Linked DNA regions of Homo sapiens: regions 2 and 3 are each reported to be linked to region 1. The links are microRNA targets in miRTarBase. Many come from high-throughput screens and were not tested one by one. Region 1 holds a microRNA gene; each other region holds the end of a gene's coding sequence.
Evidence for each region. The annotated mature microRNA hsa-miR-4310 reads GCAGCAUUCAUGUCCC and lies in region 1 at 1,577-1,592, shown strand. An mRNA with a match to its seed (bases 2 to 7 or 8) in the 3' UTR can be bound and repressed. Matches are read on the target gene's strand: a 7mer-m8 pairs with bases 2 to 8, a 7mer-A1 pairs with bases 2 to 7 and ends in A, and an 8mer does both.

Region 2: the mRNA of CAND1 is a reported target of hsa-miR-4310. Seed matches in the 3' UTR shown: 7mer-m8 at 2,074-2,080 and 7mer-m8 at 2,837-2,843.
Region 3: the mRNA of NUP43 is a reported target of hsa-miR-4310. Seed matches in the 3' UTR shown: 7mer-m8 at 1,820-1,826.

The regions. Positions count from the first base shown.
Region 1 is chr15:41,863,945-41,868,096 of GRCh38, reverse strand. It overlaps MIR4310 (microRNA 4310), which reads left to right and starts at 1,546; the gene lies at 1,546-1,602. It overlaps SPTBN5 (spectrin beta, non-erythrocytic 5), which reads left to right. Exons shown (of 68, transcript NM_016642.4): 34 at 1-28; 35 at 455-559; 36 at 971-1,138; 37 at 1,604-1,753; 38 at 1,868-2,059; 39 at 2,194-2,289; 40 at 4,073-4,152.
Region 2 is chr12:67,312,068-67,316,067 of GRCh38, forward strand. CAND1 (cullin associated and neddylation dissociated 1) reads left to right here. Exons shown (of 15, transcript NM_018448.5): 15 at 539-4,000. The coding sequence ends at 763. Among named protein-coding and RNA genes, the nearest start is that of CAND1, 45 kb to the left of the region's middle.
Region 3 is chr6:149,723,524-149,727,523 of GRCh38, forward strand. NUP43 (nucleoporin 43) reads right to left here. Exons shown (of 8, transcript NM_198887.3): 8 at 792-3,675. The coding sequence ends at 3,446. Among named protein-coding and RNA genes, the nearest start is that of LATS1, 7.4 kb to the left of the region's middle. RefSeq lists a silencer at 1,004-1,206.

The sequences.
Region 1 (4,152 bases):
CCTGGAGGAGATCCTCGCGGCCCAGGAGGCAGGTCCCCTCCCGCCCTCACACTCCGCTCAGCCTCCTGCTCCTCCTTTCTATTCTCCTCTCTGCTCAGTCCCTTTCCTCCTGCCTCTCTGGCTTTTTCTCTAATATGAGGCAGCTGTGCACAAGTCCTTCCAGGTGGCCATGGTGAAGTGCTGAGGCCCCTGAGCGTCCACTGACATCCCCAGCCCCTATCCCAGACTGAGCCCCGAGGAAGTTGGCCAGAGGCTGGTCATGCTCCCCACATGGTGCAGAGGTTGAGGTATCGCAGCCTCCCAACCTGGACTCCCACTCCTCACAGCTCCATGCCAAGCTCAGTGGGCACTCCTAAGGCCCTGCCATACCCAGAGTGCCCATGGGCACAGACTGCAGCTGGAGGGGCTGGCTGGCTGGAAGGCTTGGTGGCCTCTGACTTTTCTGTGGATCCAGGTCTCCCTGAAAACCAGTGCCTTGGGGAGCTCGGTGGAAGAGGTAGAGCAGTTGATTCGCAAGCACGAGGTCTTCCTGAAGGTTCTGACTGCCCAGGACAAGAAGGTAATGGAGTCAGGAGGCCTGGGCGTGGTCAGAGTGTGGTGGTTGGGAGAGAGTCCTGAAGGGGGTCACGGGGCGCTTGGTGTGTTCCTGGAGGCAGTGCTGATGAGCCTGCAAGGCTGGGGTCCTGGTTGGGGTTGACTGAGCAAGTTGTATGTGTGGCTCAAGAAGAGGGCCCAGGGGGAGATGGGCCACACTGCAGAGACCCACACGGGGCATTTGGCTCTGTCCACACCGTGTGGTCCTTGGGGAGCAGACTGGTCTGGCTTGTGGCTGGGAGGATCAGATACCCCTCAGCCATGTGGGGCTGAGGAAAGGGCTCCGGGGCCCTCAAAGAAAGGACTGTGAGCCCTGCAGGCCAGGCCCTGCCCCAGCCCAGGGTGGGAGAGCAGCAGCTGTGCCCCTGCCCCACAGGAGGCAGCCCTGCGTGAGCGGCTGAAGACGCTCCGGCGCCCCCGGGTGCGGGACCGGCTTCCCATCCTGCTGCAGCGCCGGATGAGAGTGAAGGAGCTGGCGGAGAGCCGGGGACACGCCCTGCATGCCTCCCTGCTGATGGCCAGCTTCACCCAGGCCGCAACCCAGGTCAGAGGGCACCCCCAGCCCAGGGCCTTCCACTGGAACCACACTCGACAGTTTTCAGCCGCCTTCACACCGCAACACTGTGAGGCGGAAACAGGTTCGGGGGTGGATGGCTTTCCCAGAGGCTGTGCTGGAGCCCAGAACATGGGATCTAAGCCCCTTTGTGTGGAGACCTCACCAGTGTCCCGAGCTCTAGCAGCGCCAGGGCAAGAGAGGTGGGGAAGGGAGCAGAGCAGCCCAGGGCCCCAGGAGTAGGGGCCACACCTCCAAAACGAGAGCCCACCCAAGGCCCTGCCCGGCTGCCTCCTGCAGCAACCTTCCGGAGCTGGAACCTTCAGGGCTCATTTACCAGGTGCTGCCCGCCCCACCCCTGAGGCCAGCCTCCTGGGAATGGCTGGGGGCTAGGCCTGTGGCGTCTGGGGCCTGAGGCTGCAGAACATTGCAGCATTCATGTCCCACCCCCACCAGGCTGAGGACTGGATCCAGGCGTGGGCCCAGCAGCTGAAGGAGCCGGTCCCTCCTGGGGACCTGAGAGATAAGCTGAAGCCCCTGCTGAAACACCAGGCCTTTGAGGCTGAAGTCCAGGCCCATGAGGAGGTCATGACCTCTGTTGCCAAGGTAACAACCGGGCCCTCAGCCCCATGCCTGCCCCAAAGTGTGGCCCAGGGGCAATGTCAGTCTTAGGAGGAAGTGCAGCAGGCAAGATGTCCTGTGTCCCCTCTCTCCCTCCAGAAGGGAGAGGCTCTCCTGGCACAGAGTCACCCTCGAGCCGGAGAGGTCTCCCAGCGGCTGCAGGGCCTGCGGAAGCACTGGGAGGACCTGAGGCAGGCAATGGCCCTCAGGGGCCAGGAGCTGGAGGACAGGCGGAACTTCCTGGAGTTCCTGCAGAGAGTGGACCTTGCAGAGGCCTGGATCCAGGAGAAGGTGTAGCCCCAGCTGGGTGGGGGCTGAGAGATGGGGGGAGGAGCCCTCCCTTGACAGGAGGGATCCCCAGCAGCAGGTGCCAGGAGCCTGGGCTGGTGCTCACAGCGCTCCCTCCCCACCCTCGGCCTTCACAGGAGGTGAAGATGAATGTTGGTGACCTGGGCCAGGACCTGGAGCACTGCCTGCAGCTCCGACGGCGGCTCCGCGAGTTCCGAGGAAACTCGGCCGGGGTAAGAGGGCCTTGCTGGGTAGAGGTTGGCCATGCATCCCGCACTGAAAATCCAACTGAGAGCAGGGAAAGAGTGTGGGCTGTAGAGCAGGGCGTGGGCGCCATGCCTGCTCCTCCTATGCCCTCGGGCAGGCTCCCTCCTCTCACCCGCCTTCACTCCTTCCTCTTTAGAATGGGGGTAGCACCCACCTCAGAGGTAAGAGAGCACGTGTGTGGTGGCAGGTACGTGAATCTCTAGCTGTGATAAAACTGCATAGACCTATCCCCCACTGCCCCGCACAGATGCATACTTGCAAAAACTAATAAAATCTGAATGAGGTCTGGTCTAGTTGGTAGTATTACACCAACGTCAGCTTTGTGGTTTTAATGTTATCATTATATAGGATGCTGCTGTAAGGGAAGCTGGGGAAGGGCACAGGGACCTCTCTGCAGGACTTTGGCAATTTCCTGGGCATCTATAATTATTTCAAAAAATCTTAAAAAGATAGGACATATGCCTGGATGTGGCAGATAATCAGCGCCCACCTTCAGTGTGACTATTTCAGCGTCTCAGCGTCTTCTCACCCCACACCCGCCCCCTCACACATACACACACCAAACATCTATTTCTCTTATGTGGTATACAGGGGAAAAAAATGGCAAATGTATTGACAATCAGGTGTTAAAGACCAAATGTGCTAACCTTGTCCCCCGGTACATGTATGTATTACTTTTTAAGAGGCGGCAGTGCTTAAACCTAAGACATCCCTTGTTAATGGTGGAATTTCACAGACGCTGTGCCAGATGCTGCAGTAGGAAGAGAGCTAGACTCCAAAGGAGCTGGGCTTGAATCCTGGCTCTGCCGCAAAGGAGCCAGGTTAGCCTCTGAGCTCTGCTCCGGCATCTATAAAAGGAGGGGAATGTCCTTCCCTGCCTACCTTGCAAATGAGGCACTTCATAGGAAAGTGCTTTGGAAATTTAAACAAGCTCTACAGAAGCCAGAGGCAGGAGATCTGCAATCACACCCTGCGGTGGACCCCCTCCCTGCGTACCTTTAAACCCCATCCAGTGTCCAAGCAGCACCAGCCTCAGCTCAGACGAGTCCTGGGGTGGGGACACCCAAACCCCAGGAAGCCAGAGCTCACTGTTCCATTCCACAACCTCCCTTTGCTTCTCTTCAACCAAGAAGCCGAATTTTCATTTTAAAAGTTTCTGTGGCTGGGCACAGTGGCTCACGCTTGTAATCCCAGCAGTTTGGGAGGCCAAGGCGGGCAGATCACTTGAGGTCAGTAGTTTGAGACAAGCCTGGCCAACATGGTGAAACCCCATCTCTACGAAAAATACAAAACTTAGCCAGGCTTGGTGGCAGGCACCTGTAGTGCCAGCTACTCGGGAGGCTGAGGTAGGAGAATCGCTTGAACCAGGGAGGTAGAGGTTGCAGTGAGCTGAGATTGTGCCACTACAACAACAGTGCAACAGAGGGAGACTCCGTCTCAAGAGTCTCTGTTAGTGAGCATGTGCCCACTCTCCCCCTCCTACATGGTACCCAGTGCAGGGATCCCATTTTCTGGCCTTAGAGATGACTCTGGGGCTGCAGGCTCCAAGCTGATCTTGCTCACTTCACCTGGACGGGGTGACCTCAGGGACCTGCCGCAGTAGAGGAGGCAGGAGGCAGTTCTTCCCACTGCCCAAATATGCAGTTCCTCATGCTCCGGGGCCCAGGCATGCTTTCAGTGCCTGCTGAGGTGGGAAGAAGGGGCTCTGCATGGGGGGTGCCAATGCCCTCACCCATACCTCCCCTGCAGGACACAGTGGGTGATGCCTGCATCAGGAGCATCAGTGACTTGTCACTGCAGCTCAAGAACCGGGACCCTGAGGAAGTCAA
Region 2 (4,000 bases), not on the chromosome of region 1:
CAGGCCACAAAAGAGGAAATTTTTAATTCTGGTTGGAAGGGGAGTCAGAAGGTTTCATATTAGGTTGACAACATTTGCAATGAACCTCGAAAAATCAAGATTTTTTTTTTTTTAGACCAAGAAGATGAAACGGGCTTTGAATAAAGGCCTGGAGATGTCATCATATGGTGTGTTTGAAAAAGTGAATAATAGAGTATAGCAAAGAATAGGGTAGCTAGAGGAGTACTTTCTTGATGGGGGCTAAAGTGTGAGACTTGCTAAGCAGATAGTTGAAACAAAGAGTGTCCTACTCTCTTTGTTACAATCATTTGGGTCTAGATTTTCTGTTTTTATAATGGGGCTTTGTGTAAAATATTCCCTTAAAAGAAAAGGAGACAGCTACTTTAAAAATAAGTTTAAAAACAGTTGTTCTTAGAATGTAATATGCCTTATGGACCTACGAGAGTAGCTTTTAGCAGGAAGATCTTATGTGCTTAAATTTTGTTCATGTAAGAGCTGTCTTTTATAGCATGTAATCTAAGTTTACTCCATCTTACAGGTAAAGGCAAACTCAGTAAAGCAGGAGTTTGAAAAACAAGATGAATTAAAGCGATCTGCCATGAGAGCAGTAGCAGCACTGCTAACCATTCCAGAAGCAGAGAAGAGTCCACTGATGAGTGAATTCCAGTCACAGATCAGTTCTAACCCTGAGCTGGCGGCTATCTTTGAAAGTATCCAGAAAGATTCATCATCTACTAACTTGGAATCAATGGACACTAGTTAGATGTTTGTTCACCATGGGGACCATTACATATGACCATACAATGCACTGAATTGACAGGTTAATCATAAGACATGGAAAGAGAAGTGTCTAAAAGCTTCAAAATGTTCCACTTTTTTTTCCTTCATGGAGACTGTTTGTTTGGCTTTCTTCCATTGTTGTTTTTGTAGCATTTATTTCAGAAATGTGTATTTCCATAATCCAGAGGTTGTAAAACCACTAGTGTTTTAGTGGTTACAGCAACATTTGAAATGGAAACTAAAAGTTAGGATTTTATGGAGTATGGAGATAGGGTCCAGTATCTATTTACCCTGTAATGTTTAGGATTAAAATGTTAAAATTTTGTGACCATGAATTTCTTTCTTTTATAAATTTTCTCATTTAAAAATCAAAAATCTTGCAAAACAAAAACCATGTTTCTTTTTCTTGTATAACTTTTTGTTTTCAGCAACATAAATTGATTTTTAGCTGGCAGACAAGAATATCCATATAAGATTTGTTAACCATTTCAGAGAGTTTGGCAATTTTTAAAAGATAATAAGGTATCATTTTTAAGTATGAAAATTAACAATATCCCTGTTGCGCACACTAATTTTGCATGAGTAAGTTTACAAATATGTATCGTCTGTAAAGCAGCATGTGCAGATTATTCATAATATAGAAGTTAAAATAAGTATTAGTGCAATTTTCAGATATTTATTTTTGCACAGAAAACACATTATCTGGAGAGAAAGAAAGGAGAATTTTTGAGACTTGGGTTTTCTTAATGCCAGTGTGAATTTGCAGATGTTTTCAGAAAATCAAGTCACAGTAACAATTTGCCACTTTTTTCTATTATAAATCTTCTTACTTAAATTTTGAATATTTAGTTTTTCTCAGTTACCCATTTGTGTGTGTGTGATTCCACTTAGAAATTCTTAAAACCAGATTTTTCTTTCATTCCGTTTGGATGTCTACATTCCTTATCAAAGGATATAAATACTGTGTATGCTTTTGAATTTTATTTTTAGGAAAATTCTGAAGCCAGCTATCACAGGTTTGTTAGCTAATAATAGTATTTTCTTTTAGTTGAGTTAGGTTTTTCCCCATCTCCTGTAGAGCGAATTTACATATTGTATTGGGTAAGTGTTCACTACTTTTCCTGATTAAGGGATCTGTGCTGGGGAACAAAGCTTTTGCAGTACCTTATATTGTAGTTAAAATTTTATTTAACATATCCTTCAGTGAGCTCATTTCACACTGTAGCCTCTTCCTTAAAATTTGTGGTGCTCCTGTAACAGTAAGAACTAATTCTGAAATAAAAGACATCTCCTAATGCTGTGCAAACATAGTTTACATGTATTGAAGGAGGCAGTTGTTAAATTGAGTGACCAATTTAAGCAATCAGATATTTGAAAACTGCACCCTTTAGTTTTGAAACTGTGAATTAGAAACACTTTTCCTGCTGTATTACTACCTGCTTTAACATCCAAATATACAGTGATTTTAAATGATAACATACTGTGGTTATTAGATTAACAGCTTGATTTTGAATGTTCAGATGATAATGCAGAAGACATCACTTCTAGTAAGGATTTTGACTAGTGCATTGATGTTGAAGTTGGTGCCATTTCAAAATGTGGCAGGTGATAATCTTTTACCATAATTTGCATAAAACTGTAATAGAAGTTTATTTTGAGATGTTAGTATATTATGTACTATGCATTTCTGTGGTATAGATGTTGTGGATATATTTAAGTATTTGGTTACATGGTTTTACAATAAATTACAATACTGCAGGCTCTAGGACTGAACAGGAGACTGACATGCATATGTTGTGTGAATGTCTTAGTTGGGTAAAGTTAAATCCAAATACTTCAACTGGCTTTTTCTTCAGTTTGTTTGTTTTTAACTTTCAAGATGCATGTTTTGTTTTGTTTTGCTTTGTTTTTGTCTCTTAAGCCAATTCATTTTTCTAACAGTTGAAATTCTTTTAGTACTAAAGAAATAGATACTGCTCTTTTATGGCTTTAGTGTTTATATACCTGTTTATATGCATACATTAACAAAATTAGTAACAGCAGTGCTTAGAATTTCAATGCTGTGTCATACTGATGATTAACTCCATACTCCTAGTGGTGATGTGGTCCAGATACTGGAATGGAAGTGGCAGGATGTGGAGTCCAGACATAGTCTACCACTCATGCTACTTACTAGTAATATTAAGGTGTTAAACTTAGGAATTTGTCACATGTAGGTTCCTGAGGAGATCTAAAAGTTAATACAAAACCAAGCTGTTTACTGATTTTCATGAGAACATTTAAGTTAGTTTAGGTCTACCTGATTTATTTTAAAAGAAGGCAGAGGGCTGGACGCAGTGGCTTACGCCTGTAATCCCAGCACTTTGGGAGGCCGAGGCGGGCGGATCACGAGGTCAGGAGATCGAGACTATCCTGGCTAACACTGTGAAAACCCATCTCTACTGAAAATACAAAAAATTAGCTGGGCGTGGTGGCAGACGCCTGTAGTCCTAGCTGCTACAGCTGAGGCAGGAGAATGGCGTGAACCCAGGAGGCGGAGCTGGCAGTGAGCCGAGATCACGCCACTGCACTCTGGCCTGGGCAACAGAGCGAGAGTCTGTCTCAAAAAAAAAAAAAAAAAAAAGGCAGGAAGGAAATTTGGTATGGCAGGGCCTAACCTAAAAGGTTATTTATAAAATCAATAGCACTGAATGATAATTTTTTTAATGACAGTCATGTATTTTATTAATGATATCTGAAAGCTGCTTAACCATTAGGAATTACAATTCTTTATGGTTGGAGTATGATGATTTCATCAAATGTTTGAATATTTACATAATTTTTATGTAACCATAATTAAACCAAATTAGTCTTTTTTTCTTCATACTTTTCTTCGGTAAATAGTGAAGAAATAATGGGCATATCTAATTAACCAGTTCTAGTGGGTGTTGTGATATCTTTATATCTAGTTCAGTCTCAGATGTATGAATATGATTATATAGTCATGATTGAAGTTCAAAATGAGGAAGTATACAAAATCCTCAGCCACTGAAAAATTCAGTTAACTTGTTTATACTCCTGTAAGCTCTAGTTAGTCACAAGACAAAGTATATAGTAACACTTTGTAATGAAGTAACATTTTCTGCCCACATTAATTTTACTAAAGACCTAAATTGTTAAAATTAATTGCCAATCTCTGGATATATTATGCTTAGTAAGTGTTTTGAAATTAAAGACCTTA
Region 3 (4,000 bases), not on the chromosome of region 1:
TAGACAATATATGAAAAAGTGTTTATCTTGGAAGTCACACTTAAAAGAAGGCCTCTGGCCGAGCACGGTGGCTCATGCCTATAATCCCAGCACTTTCGGAGGTGGAGGAGGGTGGATCACTTGAGGTCAGGAGTTCAAGACCAGCCTGGCCAACATGGTGAAACCCTGTCTCTACTAAAAATACAAAAAATTAGCTGGGCGCACACCTGTAATCCCTGCTACTCGGGAGGCTGAAACAGGAGAATTGCTTGAACCTGGGAGGCAGAGGTTGCAGTGAGCTGAGATCGTGCCATTGCACTCCTGCCTGGGCGACAGAGCGAGACTTAAAGTCTCAAAAAAAAAAAAAAAGGCCTTTGACAAAGAGCAGTAATTTTTAAAGGGAAAACAAGATTGTGAAAACAAGGTCAATTAACAGTGACTCATTGCTTACTATGGTTCAGATACTGTTAAACACTGTTACACGAAGACATGGGCGCTGTTCTTGATCTTGTGGCCCAGTAGGGGGAGACAGGCTCCTTAACACACTGCTTTGCGCACAATTTAAGTTCTGCACAATGGGCTTTTGAAGCAGAGTGCAATTTAGTCCGGATTGCTGGAGGCCAATAAAAGCTGTCTGGAGAAAATGACACCTAGAAGGAGTCTTGAAGGATAAGAAGGATTTAGCCAAAAATGGAAAGAAAGAGAAGGAAACCTTCACTGGAGAGACTATAATAATCAATTTTGAATATTTGAATATGTGATGAGAGGAATTTTGTGTGTGTGGCTCCCGAGATAAGACAGATAGAAGCAAATTTCAGTTCAGTATATGAAAATTCATTTATTTAGTGAAACCCTGACATTAAAGCGTCCCAACACAAAGCAGATTCGAACATAACAACTGGTGATTGGCTCATCTCACAGGCTCACATCATCAGTGTGTTAACATACAATAGGACTGTACCCTTTTACAGGATTGAGTGTTTTGGATCCCACTCACACACTAAAACCCTGCCATAAAGTTGTATCAATTAGGGCTGTTCAAATGTGAAACTGTATTGGAAAATGGGAAACTTTATCTCCTTATATATGTATATTTTTTGAGATGGCGTTTTGCTCTTTTGCCCAGGCTGGAGTGAAGTGGCACGATCTTGGGTCACTGCAACCTCTGCCTCCCGGGTTTGAGCAATTCTCCTGCCTCAGCCTCCCAAGTAGCTGGGATTATAGATGCCTGCCACCACGCCCGGTTAATTTTTTTTTTGCATTTTTAGTGGAGACGGGGTTTCGCCATGTTGGCCAGGCTGATCTCGAACTCTTGACCTCAGGTGCTTCACCCACCTCGGCCTCCCAAAGTGCTAGCATTACAGGCGTGAGCCACCATGCCTGGCCACCATATGTTTTTAAGTATAGGTTGGATGATAATTTGTTGGGAATACCATAGAAGGGATGATGAAATTTAGGCTGGAGATGATCACCAAGGTACTTTCTATCTCTAAGATCCTGCAACCCTTGAAAGACACTCTATTTGACAGTTTCATGAATAAAGGCAGTGACAATGAACAAATTCATAAATTACGGTGTTACATTACATAAAGCTTAGTTTCTTATTAAAATTGGCAAAACTTGTCAATTGGCATGAAATGTAATGCTGTTAAAATATACTTTCTCTTATGGTTACAAATACTAAGTGGCTCACGCCTGTAATCCCAGCACTTTGGGAGGCCGAGGCGGGCTGATTACCTGTGGTCAGGAGTTCGAGACCAGCCCTGGCCAACATGGTGAAACCCTGTCGTCTCTACTAATACAAAAATCAGCCGGGAGCAGTGGCTCAAGCCTGTAATCCCAGCATTTTGGGAGGCTGAGGCAGGTGGATCATGAGGTCAGTTCAAGACCAGCCTGGCCAACACAGTGAAACCCCATCTCTACTAAAAATACAAAAATTAGCTGGGTGTGGTGGTGAGCACCTGTAATCCCAGCTACTCGGGAGGCTGAGGCAGGAGAATTGCTTGAACCTAAGAGACGGAGGTTGCAGTGAGCTGAGATCATGCCATTTCACTCCAGCCTCAGCAACAAGAGCAAAACTCCATCTCAAAAAATATATATATTTATTAGGACAGAAAAGCAAAACCTTACCATAATTCCATAACTATGATTATTGGAATTACAAAGTAAATGAACACTTCAATTGTCTAATAGCAGTGATTTGTCATTAAGGTCTCAGGTCAATAATACATTTAAAATCTAACAAAGTTTGGAAAGATAGTATCATTAAATTATCTTAAAACACTACATTAGTTCATTATTATCCCTGCAGACAAGGATAAAGATGGTTGGTAACACTATAGGTGGCTAAAACAAAGTAAAAGGATCAAAATGGCAAAATTCTTTACTCTGATCATATCATTTGATTAATCACACTTTTATCTATCACATTTTTAGTTTGGAAATAGTTTGCTTATCAATATAGAATTCTACTTTATTGCACAATGTCCAGTTTGGCAACTTTCAGCTATGCTGTGAAGCTAAACAAAAGCAAAGTTGGGTCTAACAAGCTGAAAGAGTTCTGCTCAAAAACCTATTCTGAAAAAGGAACTTGTCAAAACATTTTCACCTTAAAAAAATTTCAGGCCGGGTGCAGTGGCTCACACCTGTAATCACAGCACTTTGGGAGGTCGAGGCGGGTGGATCATGAGGTCAAGAGATCGAGACCATCCTGGCCAACATGGTGAAACTCTGTCTCTACTAAAATTACAAAAATTAGCTGGGCGTGGTGGCGCACACCTGTAGTTCCAGCTACTCAGGAGACTGAGGCAGGAGAATTGCTTGAACCTGGGAGGTGGAGGTTGCAGTGAGCCGAGATTGCACCACCGCACTCCAGCAGAGCAAGACTCTGCCTCAAAAAAAAAAAAAAAAAAAAATTGAACACAGCTACACATCTTTGTCATTTTTGCTCTACTCAATTCTTTCTGAAAAAGTTTATTATTATTAAGGAAATAAAGTGTGGAAGGATCATAGGAAATACTTGCAATAAAAAGAATAATCATTAACATTGGCAACTGCCACTAGGAAGGTGTATATGCCACATACTACTGATAAAAATTGTAGGAACCCATTGGTAGTTCCCATAACCACCATTGATGTGTTAATTCCCACAACATCAAAAATAAAGAATTAGTTCCACAAGCTGTCTGTCAATAATACTCTGAAGGCAACCTATTCATCAGCACCAGAATCCCACTGATTTTCTTCCACATGTTCACAATCTTTTGCCATCAGTCATCTATCGGATTCTACAACTGTTTGGGAGTGTCAGGCTAACAAAAGTCAAAACTGGGCATTGACATTAATGGTAGTTTACTGATGTTTCCCCTGCAAATCTCGTATTTTCTGATACTAAAATTTTGCACAGAAGTTGGATTTCAAAAGGCTAATTGCATGTTCTATCTGAAATCTTATAATTATAGTACTTCTACGAAAAAAGATGTCTAGTAACATAAATTGCTTCTGCATCGGTTCCACAAACAAGACAAGGACCTAAAACATCCAAAGTGTTCACAGACAGAGACCTACTGGGAAGTAAGCTTGTGATTTCAATTCGGTCTTTTGCAGGATCAGTGCTGAGCCAGGAGCTAATGACAGACTGGTGAACATTAGCTTGGTTACTAATGCTATGAGACAAAAAAGTACTGCTTCTTCCTCCTGGGAGAAAAAAAGAAAAGGAAGAAATCTTTCAAGATGATTTTTATATTAGTAAACATTCAAACTTCTACTGATATTTAGAAAGGTGATGATATCAATGTGTTTAATTCTCAGAATAATAGGCTAATAATTCCATTATTATACATCACCACTTTGGACCAAAGGCTTATTCAGTGATATTAAATATTCAAATTTCCATGGGATAATATGGATACCAAACTCGAAGTCTTCAGGAAAAGCAGGTGATTTCAACTGACTTTCTGTTCATCTTTTAATGGAAAGTCTCAGAAAGGTAGCAAAACGGCCAGCATACAAGTTGAATAAG